2 separate regions of the Homo sapiens genome follow, and region 2 is linked to region 1. A link means that fine-mapping ties the variant in region 1 to the expression of a gene that starts in the linked region. Tissue or cell type: whole blood. Region 1 holds a variant in brackets; the other region holds the start of a gene. All regions are shown on one strand. Distances are from middle to middle.

Region 1 (8,178 bases):
GAGGACATCACACTCAGTGAGAGACGCCAGAGGCAGGAGGCCATGCAGCGTGTGATCCCATTTCTATGAAATGTGCAGGACAGGCCAAGCCACAGAGACGGGAAGGGGATGCGTGGGCGCCGGGGCAGGGGAGGGATGGGGAGTGACAGCTGACGGGGACAGGGCCTCCTCTAGGGGGACAATGATCTGGAATTAGAATTACATGGTGATGGCTGAACAGCTCTGGACTTTGTAACAGCCACAGCATCGTTCACTTAGAAATGGGGACTTTTCTGTCACGTGAATTGAGTCTCACGTGACAGAAAAGGGGCGGGGCGTGGTGGCTCGCACCTGTAATCCCGACACTTTGGGAGGCCGAGGCGGATGGATCACCTGAGATCACGAGTTTGAGACCACCCTGGCCAACGTGGTGAAACCCCGTCTCTACTAAAAATACAAAAATCAGCTGGGCGCGGTGGCGCACACCTGTAATCCCAGCTACTCGGGAGGCTGAGGCAGGAGAATCACTTGAACCAGGCAAGCAGAGGCTGCAGTGAGCTGAGATCGTGCCATTGCACTCCAGCCTGGGAGACAGAGTGAGACTTTGTCTCAAAAATAAATAAATATGGTGCGCGTCTGTAATCCCAGCTACTCAGGAGGCTGAGACAGGAGAATCGCTTGAACCTGGGAGGCAGAGTTTGCCATGAGCCGAGATAGATCACACCATTGCACTCCAGCTTAGACACCAAAAGCAAAACTCCATCTCAAAACAAAACAAAAAACTAGAGAAAAACAGAGACAGAAAAGAAAGAAAGAAAATAAAGAAGAAATGCAGGCCGGGCGCGGTGGCTCACGCCTGTAATCCCAATGCTTTGGGAGGCTGAGGTGGGTGGATCACAAGGTCAGGAGATTGAGACCAGCCTGGCTAACACGGTGAAACCCCGTGTCCACTAAAAAACACAAAAAATTAGCTGGGCGTGGTGGTGGGCACCTGTAGTCCCAGCTACTCGGGAGGCTGAGGCGGGAGAATGGCATGAACCCAGGAGGCGTTGGTTGCAGTGAGCCGAGGTCACGCCACTGCACTCCAGCCTGGGCGACAGAGCGAGATTTCATCTCAAAAAAAAAAAAAAAGCAGCAGCAACACAGAGCCACGTGTCCACAGAACCACGGTTCACCTGCACACCGCGGCAGGGGGCCCCACCAGGACACACGGGGCTGAGCCATCACCCACCAGGGACATTGAGCCTGATGGCTTCGCGCCAACCTGGAGACGGAAGGCTGAGCAGAAGTGAGGGGGGCCCTTCCTCCGGGCCAGGGTGGCTGGAGGGCCGGGCAAGGCACACACGTGACACCGCGGGAGCCCCGCAGCCCACGGTGGATGCCAGCAGCGGCATCCTGGCGCAGCGTGAGCCCCAGGGGTGGGGGTGGGGGTGGCCAGGGAGCAGGCAGAGAGCGGGGAAGGGGTGGGGGTCCCACACAGACCCAGCCGTCAGCAGGAGAAGGCACACGGAAAACAGACGGACGCAGCAGGGATGCCCGCAGGCAGCTCCCACGGGCAGAGGCTGCTGACCCCGCCTTGGGCAGGACCAGCCTCTGCTCAGCCTTGGGTCTTCCCCCAGGCTGAGAGAAACAGGAAATGGATGGTGAAGGAACCCCGTCCCCGCCAAGCGGCCAAAGTTACCAGCATCAGCACAACACGCGCAACGCCAGGCACTCCGGTCCACGCCGCACTGTACATGGTGCCGTCTGAGGGATTCCTCCATCCAGTCAGGAGACAACCCCAGACAAAACCAACGGAGAGGCACTCTGGAGAAGACACACCCTGGAGAAGACACACCCTGGAGAAGACGCACCCCGGAGAAGACGCACCCCGGAGAAGAGGCGCCCCGGAGAAGAGGCACTCCGGAGAAGACGCGCCCCGGAGAACACGCGCCCCGGAGAAGAGGCACCCTGGAGAACTGCCTCTTCGGGGGCAAGCGCAGAGGCTGCTGACTCCCCCGGTCCAACAAGCTCTTAGTTTTTGCAATTTTTTTGTAATTTTTTTTTTTTTAGACAGAGTCTTGCTCTGTCACCCAGGCTCGAATGCAGTGGCGCAATCTCGGCTCCCTGCAACCTCTGCTTCCCGAGTTCAAGTGATTCTCCTGCCTCAGCCTCCTGAGTAGCTGGGATTACAGGTGCCCGCCACCATGCTCAGCTAATTTTTGTATTTGTAGTAGAGACGGGGTTTCGCCACGTTGGCCAGGATGGTCTCAAACTCCTAAGCTCAGGTGATCTGCCCGCCTTGGCCCCCCAAAGTGCTGGGGTTACAAGCTTGAGCACTGCGCCTGACCTGTAAATCTAATTTTTAATTTTGTATAGAGATGAGGTCTCATTATGTTGCCCAGGCTGGATCCACGTGTCCTTCATGGACAAACACAGTGGGCCCCTCCACGCGTCCATCACGGACAAACACAGTGGGGCCCTCCACGCATCCATCACGGACACACGGACAAACACAATGGGCCTCCCACTGGGAACTCCCAGACTCAAGCGATCCTCATGCCTCAGTCAAATAGATGGGACCCAAATACTGGGACTACAGGCTTGCACCACCATGCCCGACTAATTTTTTCTATTTTTTATACAGATAGGGTCTCACTATGTTGCGCAGGCTGGTCTCAAACCCCTGGGCTCAAACAATCCTCCCGCCTTGGCCTCCCAAAGTGCTGGGATCACAGGCGTGAGCCACCGTGCCCAGTCCTGACTCAAACATGACCTCCTGCATTCCCAGGGGCAGAATCTCCCAGGCACAGTGGCCCTACTCGGAGTCTGTGAAGTGAAGACCACCAGGTGAGCCATGATCAACCCTCCCCTCAATGACCTCCCTCACGATCAACCCTCCCCTCAATGGCCTCCCTCCTCATGATCAACCCTCACTCAGTGACCTCCCTCATGATCAACCCTCCCTCAATGACCTCCCTCCCCACGATCAATCCTCACTCAATGACCTCCCTCCCCATGATCAACCCTCACTCAATGACCTCCCTCATGATCAACCCTCCCTCAATGACCTCCCTCACGATCAACCCTCCCCTCAATGACCTCCCTCCCCACAATCAATCTGCCCCTCAGTGGCCTCCCTCCCCAGGCCGTGAAGGCTCTCCAGCAGAACCAACAGTGCTGCGGAGTCCACTGGCCCCAGGCACTGCCCGGGTCCACGGCTCATCTGCTTTCTCCTATTGCTCTGGCTGCCAAGAAACTCAGGGCTCAGGTGTATCAATAGTTACCAGGCGGATCGCCTGAGGTCAGGAGTTCGAGACCAGCCTGGCCAATATGGTGAAACCCCGTCTCTACTAAAAATACAAAAATTAGCCAGGCGTGGTGGCGCACACCTATAATCCCAGCTACTCGGGAGGCTGAGGCAGAAGAATGGCTCACACTTGGGAGGCAGAGGTTGCAGTGAGCCGAGATTGCACCACTGCACTCCAGCCTGGGTGACAGAGCGAGACTCCGTCTCAAAAAACAATAGGCCAGGTGCGGTGGCTCATGCCTGTAATCCCAGCACTTTGGGAGACGGGCAGATCACCTGAGGTCAGGAGTTCGAGACCATCCTGGCCAACATGGCGAAATCCCATCTCTACTAAAAATATAAAAATTAGCCGGGCGTGGTGGTGGGTGCCTGTAGTCCCAGCTACTTGGTAGGCTGAGGCAGGAGAATCGCTTGAACCCGCCAGGCAGAGGTTGCAGTTACCCAAGATGGCGCCACTACACTCCAGCCTGGGCAAGAGTAAGAGTCGGTCTCCAGAAAAAAAAGTCATGACTAGCTGTCTCGTTATGGCCTGTGGGGTTTTACATTCACCCTCACTCCCAGCCCAGGAACAGGTTCTCCCTACCAATCCCTCCAGGTTTATACAACAGCAGGAAACATTTGCAGGGAATGCACACATGCCACAGGTCACACGATGGCTTTGAACGGTGCCTCCGTTTCCCCTCGCTCCCGTGAAAAGCTACTGTCAACCTCATGGCTCCAACAAGCTGAATATGGTGGCTCACGCCTGTAATCCCCATGCTTTGGTAGGCTCAGGCAGGAGAATCGCTTGAGCCCAGAAGTTTGAGACCAGCCTAGGCAACACAGTGAGACCTCATTTCTACAAAACATAAAAAATTATCTGGGTGTGGTGGTGTGTCCTTATGGTCCCAGCTACTGGGGAAGCTGAGGTGGGAGCTTGAGCCCAGGAGGTGGAGGCTGCAGTGAGCCGAGATTGCACCGCTGCACTCCAGGCTGAACAACAGAGCCAGACCCTGTCTCTAAAAATAAAAATTAAAAAAATATATAAATGAAACACACACTTATCCTCTCACAGTCTGGAGGGCAGAACTTGTAACATCAAGGGTGGGCAGGGCAGGTCCCTCCCGGGGGCTCCAGGGGAAAACCCAGTTCCTGCCTTTCCAGTGTCCAGAGGCACCCGCATCCCTTGGCTTGGGGCCCCTTCTTCCCCCTTCACGGCCAGAGCGCAGGCTCTTCCCGTCTCTCTCTGGCTCTCACCCTCCCGCCTCCTCTCATGAGGGCCCTGTGAGGACACTGGGTCTCCAGGTCACCCAGGAAGCTCTCCCGTCTCGGGTCCATCACTCAGTCCCATCTGCAGGTCCCTGTGAGGACACTGGGCCTCCAGGTCACCCAGGAAGCTCT[T/C]CCGTCTTGGGTCCATCACTCAGTCCCATCTGCAGGTCCCGTCTGCCATGAGAGGCGACACGGCGGCAGGTCCTGGGGATCAGGACGGGGACGTCTTGGAGGCTGTAACCGTGTGGCCAGCACATTTCCTCAGGTCTGAGTCGGGAGCAGAGGCTTCCGTGGCTGGCTGGGCTGCGCTGGGGGGCACGGCGCAAAGGGCCTCGAACACCAGGCTCAGGTCTGGGCTCCTTCCTGGCTCCGCAGAACCACGCGGCCCAGCCCACAGGCCTGGGCTGACTCATACCCGTCCCGTCCCACACTTGGCACCGCGGGACCACGCATCCCGTCCCACACTCGACACCACAGAACCTTGCGGCCCAGCCCACAGGACTGAGCTGACCCACACCCGTCCCATCCCACACTCAGCACTGGGGGACCACGCGGCCCGGCCCACACTTGGCACCGGGGTCAGACTTCCTCCAAATGAAGTTCTGCTGCTTTAACAGGGAGATTTGGGTCCAAGCTGCCCCACATACGGACGCTGGAGCATGAGGCGGCTGTAGGCAGGGTGGGCAGGGAGCCGGGCGGGCGGTGCTCACAGAACCAGCACAGTGGCCCCGAGGGCTCCGGGCTGAACAGATGCAGCAGCAATTGTTCAGGAGGGGAGGAGCAGGAGAATTCATGAGACAGAGATGGAGACGGAGACAGAGACAGAGACATGGAGAGAGACAGAGACAGGGAGACAGAGACGCAGAGACATAGAGACATAGAGACAGAGGCAGAGAGGGAAACAGACGAAGACAGAGAGGGCGACAGAGACAGAGGCAGAGAGGGAAACAGACGAAGACAGAGAGGGCGACAGAGACAGAGAGGGAAACAGACACAGAGGCAGAGAGGGAGACAAAGAGACAGGTGGAGAGGGAGACAGAGAGACAGAGGCAGAGACAAAGAGACAGAGACAGAGAGGGAGACAGAGAGACAGAGACAGAGAGGGAGACAGAGAGACAGGGGCAGAGACAAGCAGAGAGGGAGACACAGACAGAGACAGAGAGGGAGACAGAGAGACAGAGGCGGAGATGGAGACAGAGACAGAGAGACAGAGACAGAGAGGGAGACAGAGACAAAGAGGGAGACAGAGACAGAGACTGAGAGGGAGACAGAGAGATGGAGCATAGAGGGAGACAGAGACAGAGGCAGAGAGAGAGACAGAGGCAGAGAGGAAGACAGAGGCAGAGAGGGAGGCAGAGACAGAGAGGGAGATAGGCAGAGAGAGATTGAGAGGGAGGGAGACAGAGAGAGAGACTAGGAGCAGGGGGAAGAGGGAGAGAGAGAGACAGAGAAAAGAAAGAGACAGGCCGGGCACGGTGGCTCACGCCTGTAATCCCAGCACTTTGGGAGGCTGAGGCGGGCGGATCACCACAGGTCAGGAGTTTGAGACCAGCCTGACCAACATGGAGAAACCCTGTCTCTACCAAAAAAAAAAAAAAAAAAATTAGCCAGGCATGGTGGTGCATGCCTGTGGTCTCAGCTGCTCGGGAGGCTGAGGCAGGAAAATCGCTTGAACCTGGGAAGCGGAGGTTGCAGTGAGCCAAGATCGTGCCATTGCACTCCAGCCTGAGCAACAAGAGCAAAACTCTGTCTCAAAAAAAAAAAAAAAGAAAGAAAGAAAGGAAAGAGAGAAGGAACACACAGAAAGAGGCAGAGAAGGGGTGAAAGAGAAGAAGGGGGCGGGGCAAGGACAGGCTGACCCAGGGCTGGGGCTGGTAGGAAGGCAGTGGCGGTGAGGAAGGAGCCACTGCCATCAGTCGCACCCCGGGCTCCTCCCCTGTGCGTCCCCTGAAGGGTGGGGCACAGATGCCAGCTCTGGACAGGCGCCTCCCCTGCCTCAGTTTCCTTCTGTGTCCGGCTGGCATGGCGCAGCAGCTTGCCACACCTTGGCCAGGACCAGATCACATGGGGGTCCAGGGCTACTGCGGGTGAGGACAGAGCCCCTGTGCGCACCTCGCTGACCTCAGCCCCAAGATGAGCAGGGGCGCCCCCCTCCCCTGAACACAGCTGGTAGGCCAATTTCCAGGCCACACACTGGGGGCTACAGGACAGGAATCCACCCTCTTCCCGTCCCAGGGCCCGGGAGTCTGAGGCCAAGGTGTCTCAGGGCCTTGCTCCCTCCCACAGCTCTGACCCACCTCTTCCAGCCCTGGGGCTCCAGGAGAAACTGACCTGTGGCCACACCGCCCCAGCCCCGGCCTCCAGCGTGGCGCCAGCTCCCAATCTCTCCTGTCTCTTCTGAGGACCCTTGTGCTGGATTTCAGAGCTACCTCATCTCATCTTGATCCCTACCCAATGACATCCAAAAAGACCCTACTTTCCAGGAAGGTCCCCTCACAGACTCTACTGGGGAGGCGGACTTGACGGACGCGGTCACCCCAGCACAGACTCAGGGTCCGGCTGGCTTTGCCCCGCTCTGCTACGGCCCTGAGTGGGGAAAACTGGGCCCGGGGTCCACCCGGCGAGCTGTTTGCAGGGCCTGGGTCTGGGTGAGCCCTGGGACCTGAATTGGCTCCATTCTGCTGCAGCCACACCTGACCGCTTCTCTCTGGATCTGGCCGGCTTGCGCCCATCCCCCCAACAGCTCTGAGGCCCAGGCAGATCTCACATGCCCATTACACAGGGGAAGCGGAGGCTTGGGGGAGCTGAGCACCAGGTGACCCTCGCTCCCCGGCAGGCCCTGGATGTGGTCCGGCCCAGCAGCAGCCCCTGGCCCCGGGTCCCACACGGAGGCTGTGGTATCCGAACCGTCCCAGGGAAGCCGATCTCTGTGGCACTGGGTGCTCCAGAGCTGCCGAGAGGAAGCTGGGGCACTGGGAACCCCTTGGGGAAGGCTGTGAGGGTGGGGGTGGGGTCCGCCTGATGCCGCAGTGGGAGGCTGTGAGGGTGGGGGTGGGGTCCGCCTGATGCCGAAGGGGGAGGCTGGGAGGGTGGGGGTGGGGTCCGCCTGATGCCGCAGTGGGAGGCTGGGAGCCTCCCCGCGACCCTGGGGAGAAGGAGGTGGAAAGTTCTGTTCCTTTGGTATGTGAGTTCCGTTTTCAGGTGGCTGCTAAGGGGTTGGGACTCCAATGTGCAGGGTGTCTGGACCCGCCTAGAGGGAGGGCCGTGGGGGCAAAGGCTGCCAAGGGCATCTCTCCCAGCACCGCCCTCCCCGCAACTCCCTCTGTGGCATTGCCCAGATGCTCGCAGGGACCCCAAGGGCTGGGCGGGGCTCACTGCTGACACGAAGGGCCAGTCACTGGCTCTTCCCCAAAACCAAGCCACATCTCTGGGCTCCTACTGCCCCACCGTAAACCCTGCGGCCGAGGGGCCAAGCCGAGGTCACTGAGTCCCAGGCAGGCCTGAGCGAGAGAGGTCGCAGGGCAGCTGGAGGGGCGGCCCAGACTCCACCCTGCCCCCCACGGCGCGGTGAGCTCCTGGGGCTCCTACCTGAGCAAAGTCGCAGGTCTTTGGTGGCAAGCTGGAGGCGGTGGCCACGGGGGCATAGCTGGTGTCTGGGCAGG
Region 2 (8,171 bases), 32 kb after region 1:
CGAGCAACACACACATGCACAGGAGCACACAGCCACAGGCACGCACATTCACACACACACAACGCACCCACATCCGTACAACACACACACAGAACGCGCACACGTCCGTACGACGCACACACAGAATGCACGTGCGTACGTACAATGCACACAAAGAATACACACATCCATACAACACACAGGCACACAACACACATGTGCATGCACATGGCGCAACATACAGATACACAAAGACACGTGTACACACACATGCAGAGTCCCCAGGGCAGCGCTGGCGTCATGGGGGGCTGCCTCCACACCGCCTCCAGGAGTGTTTACAGCTGTGGATTACATGATACCGCCCCCTTCCCAGAGCTGATCCCACCCCCCAGCATGGGGGCCCCCTGGGAGGGGGCCTCTGGGAGCCGGACTGGTTCTGTCGACACAGTCGCCTCTTTGTTCGGGGCAGAGCTCACTCTGGCGGTGTTGGCGTTTCCGCATGGGCCCTGCCGGAGGGGCATCCGTGACTCCGCTGGAGCCGGGTTGGGCCAAGCCCAAGCTGGTCACACCCCTCACACCCCTGGGGTTGGGGGAGGCCTTAGGCAGCAAGTGGGTGGGGGGTCTAGGGGTGGCTGGCGCAACCTCTCTCCACCTCGGTTTCCCCGCCAGGTGAGAGGGCAGTGACTGCCCATGGTCACGCGGCTGGAGAACATGCACCCTCTCCTCCGCACCTGCACACCTGGGTGCCTCCTGTCTAGCCCAGACTCCAAAGCCAACCAAGAGTGAATGGATGAACGGAGAGGCCAGACCCCAAAGCAAACTGAGAGTGAATGGATGAGGGAAGCTCCTGCTGCCTCTTCTGTGCTCTGACAGGCTCCCTCCCCCTGAAGTCCAGCCCCTGCCTGCACAGCCCCCTCCACACCAGGGCCCTCCTGGCTCCTGGCAGGTGTGGGCAGATGTCTGCCGGGATCCTCAGAGTTAAACAAAAGCCTCCTCCCTGTGCTCTGAAATCACACTCCAGGGGCTGGCAGGCGCCTTCCAAGTCCTTCCCTCTCCAAGGACGAGAGCCTGCCTGCGTCTCCTCTGCCGTCTCCCCTGCCGTGGGAGGCCCTGAGGCCCCCATCCTGCTGTTCTCCATCCCACCCACCAAGGGGTCCAGATCTCAAATTCGCCCTTTCTCGGCAAGAACTCTGAAGGTGGCCCGGAGCAGGCCACTGTGAGAAGCCATCACCCCACGACCAGGGTCACCCCTGGGAAAATCTGGGGCCGGGCAGCCAGATCCCTGAAGGCCAGAGGATGTCTGGGAAGAAAGGGCGTGGACGGCACCTGCTGGGCCTGCCACAAACTCTCTGGGTCCCATGTCCCCGCTGCTCCTCTTCCAGGGCCGAGTCAGGGAGAGACATCCCAGGGAGGGCACCCGAAACAGCACAGCACCCCTCAGTCAGGAAGCAGTGCCGGCTGCCCTGGCCCGGAGGAAGAGGCCTGGAAGAAAGTTTGAAGCCTGTAATCCCCGTGTAATCGGGCTGGCTGCCCACGGGGTCTGCGGCCCTGGGTCCTCGGCCCCTCCCATGCTCTTCTCTTGAACCTCGGCTTCCTCTGCCCCTCTGTAAAACACTCACTGCAACCGCCCCCCCCGCCCCGGCAAACTGGCAGCCAGCATCAGCACAGGCCAGCTCCGAGGCCGGGCACTCTCGCTGACAGGGCGTGCAACAGATGGCACCAAACCTATCCCGTCCCGTCCCAGCAGTCACAGGCAGGAAGGACGTTCTGAGCAGGCGGGAACAACAGGCATTCCGGGAAGAAGCAGCCAGGGGAGGCCCCGGCTACACATTTAAGAGATTTTTTTTTTTTTTTTTTAACTTTTCAGAATGTTAATCAGTTCATCCAGGGAGACACCCACCGTCCCTGCCCCAGCACCATCCGTGCCCGGCGTCCCTGGAGGCGCTGGGTGGGCTCTCCACAACGCCTGCCCCCCACGCCCCAGGTCAGTCTGGGGATTGGTCCCTCCAGGCCCCACCTGCCTTATTCTTCGGGACTCTGGGGTGGTGGGAAGAGTGCCCTACGGGGGACAGGACCCACCAGGAGGCCTGCGCTTCCCCTTCACCGACACACGCTGCTCCCGGGCCCCACTCGGGCCATCTCAGCCCGCTACCCTCCCTCCCGCCTGTCCCTGGAAGCCGGGTTTGAATGCGACCCGCACTCCCACCCCCAACACGCTCTGCAGACTCCGCCCAGACGGCCCCGGGGTCACCTAATATCAGCAAGCCCCCATCCCAAACCGGGGGACCTCCATGCAGAAACCGAAAAACCATCTGCCCCAGAAGAGAAGTCGGAGGCCCCAGGAGCGGGAGGGGCGGGGAGCAAGGGGAGGGAGGGAGACAGGGCTGCGCTGCGGGGCCGAGAAGGCAAGGGTCCTGGGACCGGGGACAAGGAGGAGGAAGGGGCACGAACGCCCGAGGAGCCTGGAGTCAGGAATCGGGGCGGCGGGAGAGACCGGGGGTCACTCCCAGGAAGGGGTCGAGGTCACGAGGCGCATGGAGTCGAGAGTCCCCAAAAGGGAAGGCCAGGATACCGAGGAAAAGCGGGTGCGGGGTCACCAAGGGGCTCGGGGGCACCGATGAGTGCGGGGTCAAGGGTTACCAGAAAACGAAAGGTCGGGGGTCACCAAGCTGCGCGGTACAGGGAGTCACCCGGAAGAGCGGGAAGGAAAGGTTGGGAGGGTTGTCGTGGAAGGTAGGGTTAAGGTTCACGGCAGGGGGTCGCCGGGGGGCGGGGGGGCAGGTCAAGGTTCACGGCGGTGGTCGCGGGGCAGCGCGGGGTCAACGTTGGCGGCGAAGGGCGGGGTCGGAAGGGGTCGCGGCGGAGGGCGGGGGTCCCGCCGCGCTCGCCCCCGCCCCACGGCCCCCAGAACCCCCAGCCCCGGGCGCAGGGGTCCGCGGGGAGCGCCGGACCCACAAGCGGGGTCGGGCCAGGCAGGGGTCGCGGTGGAGCCGGGGCGGGGGTCGCAACCAGAGCCTCACCTCGGGCCCGGGTCCGGCCGGGCGCGGAGCCCGCGGCGCCTGTTTCTCCGAGCCTCGCAGCTGCCGCCGCTCACTTCCGGGTTTCGGGCGCCATCTTGGGGGCCCCGCGCACTTCCGGTCATGCCGCGGGGCGGGGCCTCCACCTGCGGGGGCGTGGTCTCGGTTCGGGGGCGGGGCCACCTTCCAAGCCAATCCCTTGAGGTCCTTCCGCTATTCGGAAGGGGCTGGGACTCCTACGGCTCTGGGTTCGAATCCCGCCCTGCCTGGTTCTCTTGAGACCCCAGCATGTGCTTTCACCTCCTCAAGCCTCAGTTTCCTCTTCTGCACCGTGCTGGTGAAATGGAATCTGCTTTGTGGTACAGCATCCCCTTTTTTCCTCCTTCCTCAGAACCCCCTCCAAGCCTCTGCATGTGCCACGTCCCCCACTGGGGCTCACTCACCCGAGACTTTTAAACTGAGACTCCCTCAAAAGCTACTAAGACGATCACCAGCCGGGCGCAGTGGCTCACGCCTGTAATCGCAGCACTTTGAGAGGCTGAGGCGGATGGATCACTTGAGGTCGGGAGTTTGAGGCCAACCTGGACAATATGATGAAACCCCGTCTCTACTAAATATACAAAAATTAGCTGGGCGTGATGGCGGGCACCTGTAATCCCAGCTACTCAGGAGGCTGAGGCAGTAGTATCGCTTGAACCTGGGAGGTAGTTATTGCAGTGAGCTGAGATCGCACCACTGCACTCCAGCCCGGGCAACAGAGTGAGACTCCATCTCAAAAATAAATAAATAAATAACGAAATAAAATAAAATGAAATAAAATCATCACCTCTGGGCCTGTCAGACATACTCTCTCACGAAAAGTTATCTCTGTTCATTAATCTCTCTCCCTAACCAAATACAGTTCTGGACGCTTCAGCATGGTGACTGGCACATGGGGGTTTGGGTAAGTCCCAGGGGCTACCCCCAAGAGAGCAGGATCCTTTCAGGCAGGGCCACGGGGGCCTGAGGGGCTCCTCCTCTCGGTGGCTGTGGTGGGAGGCTGCCCTGCGTGGGGAGCTGGAGTCTCAGGGCACTTTTCCTGTGACTTGAGCCAGTGAAGGCAGATCCAGTGTGGGAGGCACCACCGCCTCCCCAGCCCAATTTCAGCCATGACAATACTGATACAGCTCCCTGGACCCAAGCAGCCACAAGCCAGAGGCCTCTGCCCCCATTCCAACCCCCTGAAACTAGAGTTGATTTCTCCATGACTTTGTTAATTCATTCAGTGACTTCTAATCGATGCTGCTCTGTGCTTGGTCATGAGCTGGGAAAACCCAGGGTCTCACAGAGGACTCAGCTGTCTGTCCCAACATCAGAAAGCCCCTGGTCTAGGGGAGAGAGAACCAGGACCAGACACTCCAATATGCGGGATCTCTGGGAGGGTTGAAATGTCTGCCTAGGGCTTCATAGAGGGCTGCATGCTGAAGAGTGTGTTGAAGCTGGGGTTTTGAAGTTCAAGTAGGAGTGTACCAGGTAGACAAGAGTAGGAAGAACAGTCCGGGCAAAGAAGGCCTGGTAAGGCAGATAATAAGCAGGTTTAAGATATTTTAGCACCTCTCTAAAAAACTGAGGCCAAAAGCCAGGCACGGTGGCTCACGCCTGTAATCCCAGCACTACGGGAGTCTGAGGCAGGAGGAACACCTGAGGTCAGCGGTTTGAGACCAGCCTGGCCAACATGGTGAAACCCCATCTCTACTAAAAGTACAAAAAAGTTAGCTGGGCATGGTGGTGCCTGCCTGTATTCCCAGCTACTAGGGAGGCTGAGGCAGGAGAATCGCTTGAACCCAGGAGGTAGAGGTTGCAGTGAGCTGAGATCACACCACTGCACTCCAGCCTGGGCGATAGAGTGAGGTTCGGTCTCAAAAAAACAAACAAACAAAAAACGGTGGCTCACGCCTGTAATCCCAACACTTTGGGAGGCTGAGGTGGGTGAATCACCTAGGTCAGAAGTTCAACACCAGCCTGACGAACATGGTGAAACCCTGTCTCTACTAAAAATACAAAAATTAGCCAGGCGTGGTAGTGGGTGCCTGTAATCCTGACTACTCAGGAGGCTGAGGCAGGAGAATCACTTGAATCTGGGAGGCGGAGGTTGCAGTGAGCTGAGATCGCGCCATTGCACTCCAGCCTGGGTGACATGACAAGACCCCGTCTAAAAAAAAAAAAAAAAAAAAAATTTCAGGCCAAGGACCCCTGTCATCAAACCCAAAAGCACAAGGGGGCAGATGGGGAAACTCAGACCCAGAAGGCAGAAGTGATATGTCCAGAGTGAGATGCAGAAGGCGCACAAGGACATTTTGTCCTTCAGCTCATTGGGGGTCTCCTTTACCCATGGTGACAGAACGGCGTCCACCTGTTGTGAGCTTTTCCTCAGAGTCCCGCAGAGCAGCCGGACCCGACAGAGATACTTCCCTCCACACTGAATCTCTTTTTTTTTTTTTTTTTTTTGGGACGGAGTCTGGCTCTGTCGCCCAGGCTGGAGTGCAGTGGCGCAATCTCAGCTCACTGCAAGCTCCACCTCCCAGGTTCATGCCATTCTCCTGCCTCAGCCTCCTGAGTAGCTGGGACTGCAGGCGCCCGCCACCACCCCGGCTAATTTTTTGTATTTTTAGTAGAGACGGGGTTTCACCGTGTTAGCCAGGATGGTCTCGATCTCCTGACCTCGTGATCCGCCCGCCTCGGCCACCCAAAGTGCTGGGATTACGGGCGTGAGCCAACGCACCCGGCCAAATCTCCTTTTTTTTGAGATGGAGTCTTGCTGTGTCTCCCAGGCCGGAGTGCAATGGCATGACCTCTGCCTCCCGGTTTTGGCAAACTGGGTGCTCATCTCAACTTTGAGACTATTTTCTCTTTTTTTTGAGATGGAGTTTCACTCCTGTTGCCCAGGCTGGAGTGCATTGGCGCAATCTTGGCCCACTGCAACCTCCTCCTCCCCTGTTCAAGTGGTTATCCTGCCTCAGCCTGCCAAGTAGCTGGGATTACAGGCATGTGCCACCATGCCCAGCTAATTTTGTATTTTCCGTAGAAATAGGGTTTCTCCATGTTGGTCAGGCTGGTCTCAAACTCCTGACCTCAGGTGATCTGCCTGCCTCGGCCTCCCAAAGTGCTGGGATTACAGGCATGAGCCACCGTGCCTGGCTGAGACTCTTTTCACAGCAAATTGAACAGCAGTTAAATTGAGCAATAGGCACTAAAGATTTGGAAGGGTGAGGAAGCCAGCCTGGGGACTGGAGGGTGGCGGCTGCATCTGCTCATTTCCTCCCACACTGGACCATCCACACAACTTTTGAGGATCAGTGGAAATGAAAACACGGTGCCCCGGCACAAAACATATTTCATAGCTTGGGTTAGGCAACAGCAAAGCATCACGCTGAGCGCCGGGACCTTCTGAGTGCAGGCGGTGGGCGAAGCCCCGAGTCACACACACCCACGACGCCGGCCCTGCTCCCACAGCGGCCCTCTGGGGTAGCGACTGGTATTACCTGCATTTCACGAGGGAGGAAACTGAGGCACGAACTGTTCAGAAGCTGCCCTGAGGTCACCAAGTGAGCTAGGAAGAGGCGTGGGCTCGATCTCTGCCACATCCACCTCGGGAAACCACAAGGTCTCGATGGGTGATTTTGCCTAAAGTGGGGGCAGTTTGCCCAGGCCGGGGTGGGTCCAGCCATCTCAGCAGGCAGGAATCTGCCAAGTTGGGGGATGCTTAGGGAATTAGTCAGATGCGGGGATTTCCAGGGAATCACAGGGGGTGGCTCCGGAAAGCAGCAGGGACACAGTACTGGGGCTCATGGCCCAGCCTGGAGTACAGTGCTGTGAATCTGCTGTGTGACCCAAGGAGAGTTACTTAACCTCTCTGTGCCCCGGTTTTCCCACCTATAAAATGGGGAGGGTGATAATAATAGCAACTAGTGGCCGGGCACGGTGGCTTATACCTGTAATCCCAGCACTTTGGGAGGCTGAGACGGGAAGATCACGAGGTCAAGAGATTGAGACCATCCTGGATAACATGGTGAAACCCTGTCTCTACTAAAAATACAAAAATAAGCCGGACATGATGGTACGTACCTGTGGTCCCAACCACTCCGGAGGCTGAGGCAGGAGAATCGCTTGAACCCGGGAGGCGGAGGTTGCAATGAGCTGAGATCGCACCACTGCACTCCAGCCTGGGCAACAGAGCAAGACTCTGTCTCAAAAAAAATAATAATAATGATAATAATAATAATAGCAACTAGCTGCTAGGTTGTTCAGACAACTCAATGGACAGACAGTGCCTAATAGAATTTAACCACTACGAATATTTCCAAATGAAATTCTTTTTTTTTTTTTTTTTGAGACGAAGTCTGGCCCTTTCACCCAGGCTGGAGTGCAGGGGCATGAGCTCAACTTAGTGCAACCCCTGCCTCTTGGGTCCAAGTGATTATCTTGCCTCAGCCTCCCAAGTAGCTGGGATTACAGGCACGTGCCACCATGCCCGGCTAATTTTTGTATTTTCAGTAGAGGCAGGGTTTCACCATGTTGACCAGGATGGTCTCGAGCTCTTGACCTCGTGATCCGCCTGCCTTGGCCTCCCATATTGCTGGGATTCCAGGCTTGAGCCACCCTAGGGAAATTCTTGATTTTCCTCGGCCCAGTCCATGGCGTCACTGAAGTGGATGTTCAATGAGAAAATAATAAGGATGAATGCTGCAGTTGGAGTTCAAGAGAGGAGGCATTTTTGACGCCACAGATGGGCAGAGATGGGGTGAGGGCCCTGGCCGGCACCAGCTCTCCTGGCTCAGACTTTGGAAGCCGCCCCCCAGGGGAGACGCTCAACTGGTCAGAGGTGTGGATAGCCCCGTCCCCCAGTAGTCCCACCCCGCAGAGAGCTCTCAGGCTTCCAGCTCTGGCCCAGGCCCAGGTCCTCGGTGCCATGTGAAGGGTGGAGAGCTCTCCTGGGGGACAGAGTTGTACATTTGTGGAGGTTTTCTGGTGGGGCTGTGTTTGACGTCAACACTCTCCTCCCTAAACCCTCCCTCTTCCCCATCCCATACAGGTCCTCCTAAATGTCTTCCCAGCCCCTTCGAGAGAATTGTGGAAGTGGGGTTGCCAGATCAAACACAAGACACCCAGTTAAAATTCAACTGTAGGTACGTGACG

The links. PIP is the estimated chance that this variant, and not a neighbour inherited with it, causes the effect.
Region 2: it holds the start of SBNO2, and the variant in region 1 is fine-mapped to the expression of SBNO2 in whole blood (TOPMed, PIP above 0.99).

The regions. Positions count from the first base shown.
Region 1 is chr19:1,139,205-1,147,382 of GRCh38, forward strand. It overlaps SBNO2 (strawberry notch homolog 2), which reads right to left. Exons shown (of 32, transcript NM_014963.3): 4 at 8,105-8,178. Among named protein-coding and RNA genes, the nearest start is that of SBNO2, 31 kb to the right of the region's middle. The variant T/C (reference allele first, on the strand shown) is at 4,649.
Region 2 is chr19:1,171,173-1,179,343 of GRCh38, forward strand. SBNO2 (strawberry notch homolog 2) reads right to left here and starts at 3,096. Exons shown (of 32, transcript NM_014963.3): 1 at 3,000-3,096. LOC102725180 (collagen alpha-1(VII) chain) reads left to right here. Exons shown (of 3, transcript XR_005647046.2): 2 at 1,847-2,712; 3 at 3,388-3,821. RefSeq lists enhancers at 1,464-2,022, 3,407-3,456, 6,212-7,411 and a silencer at 2,957-3,266.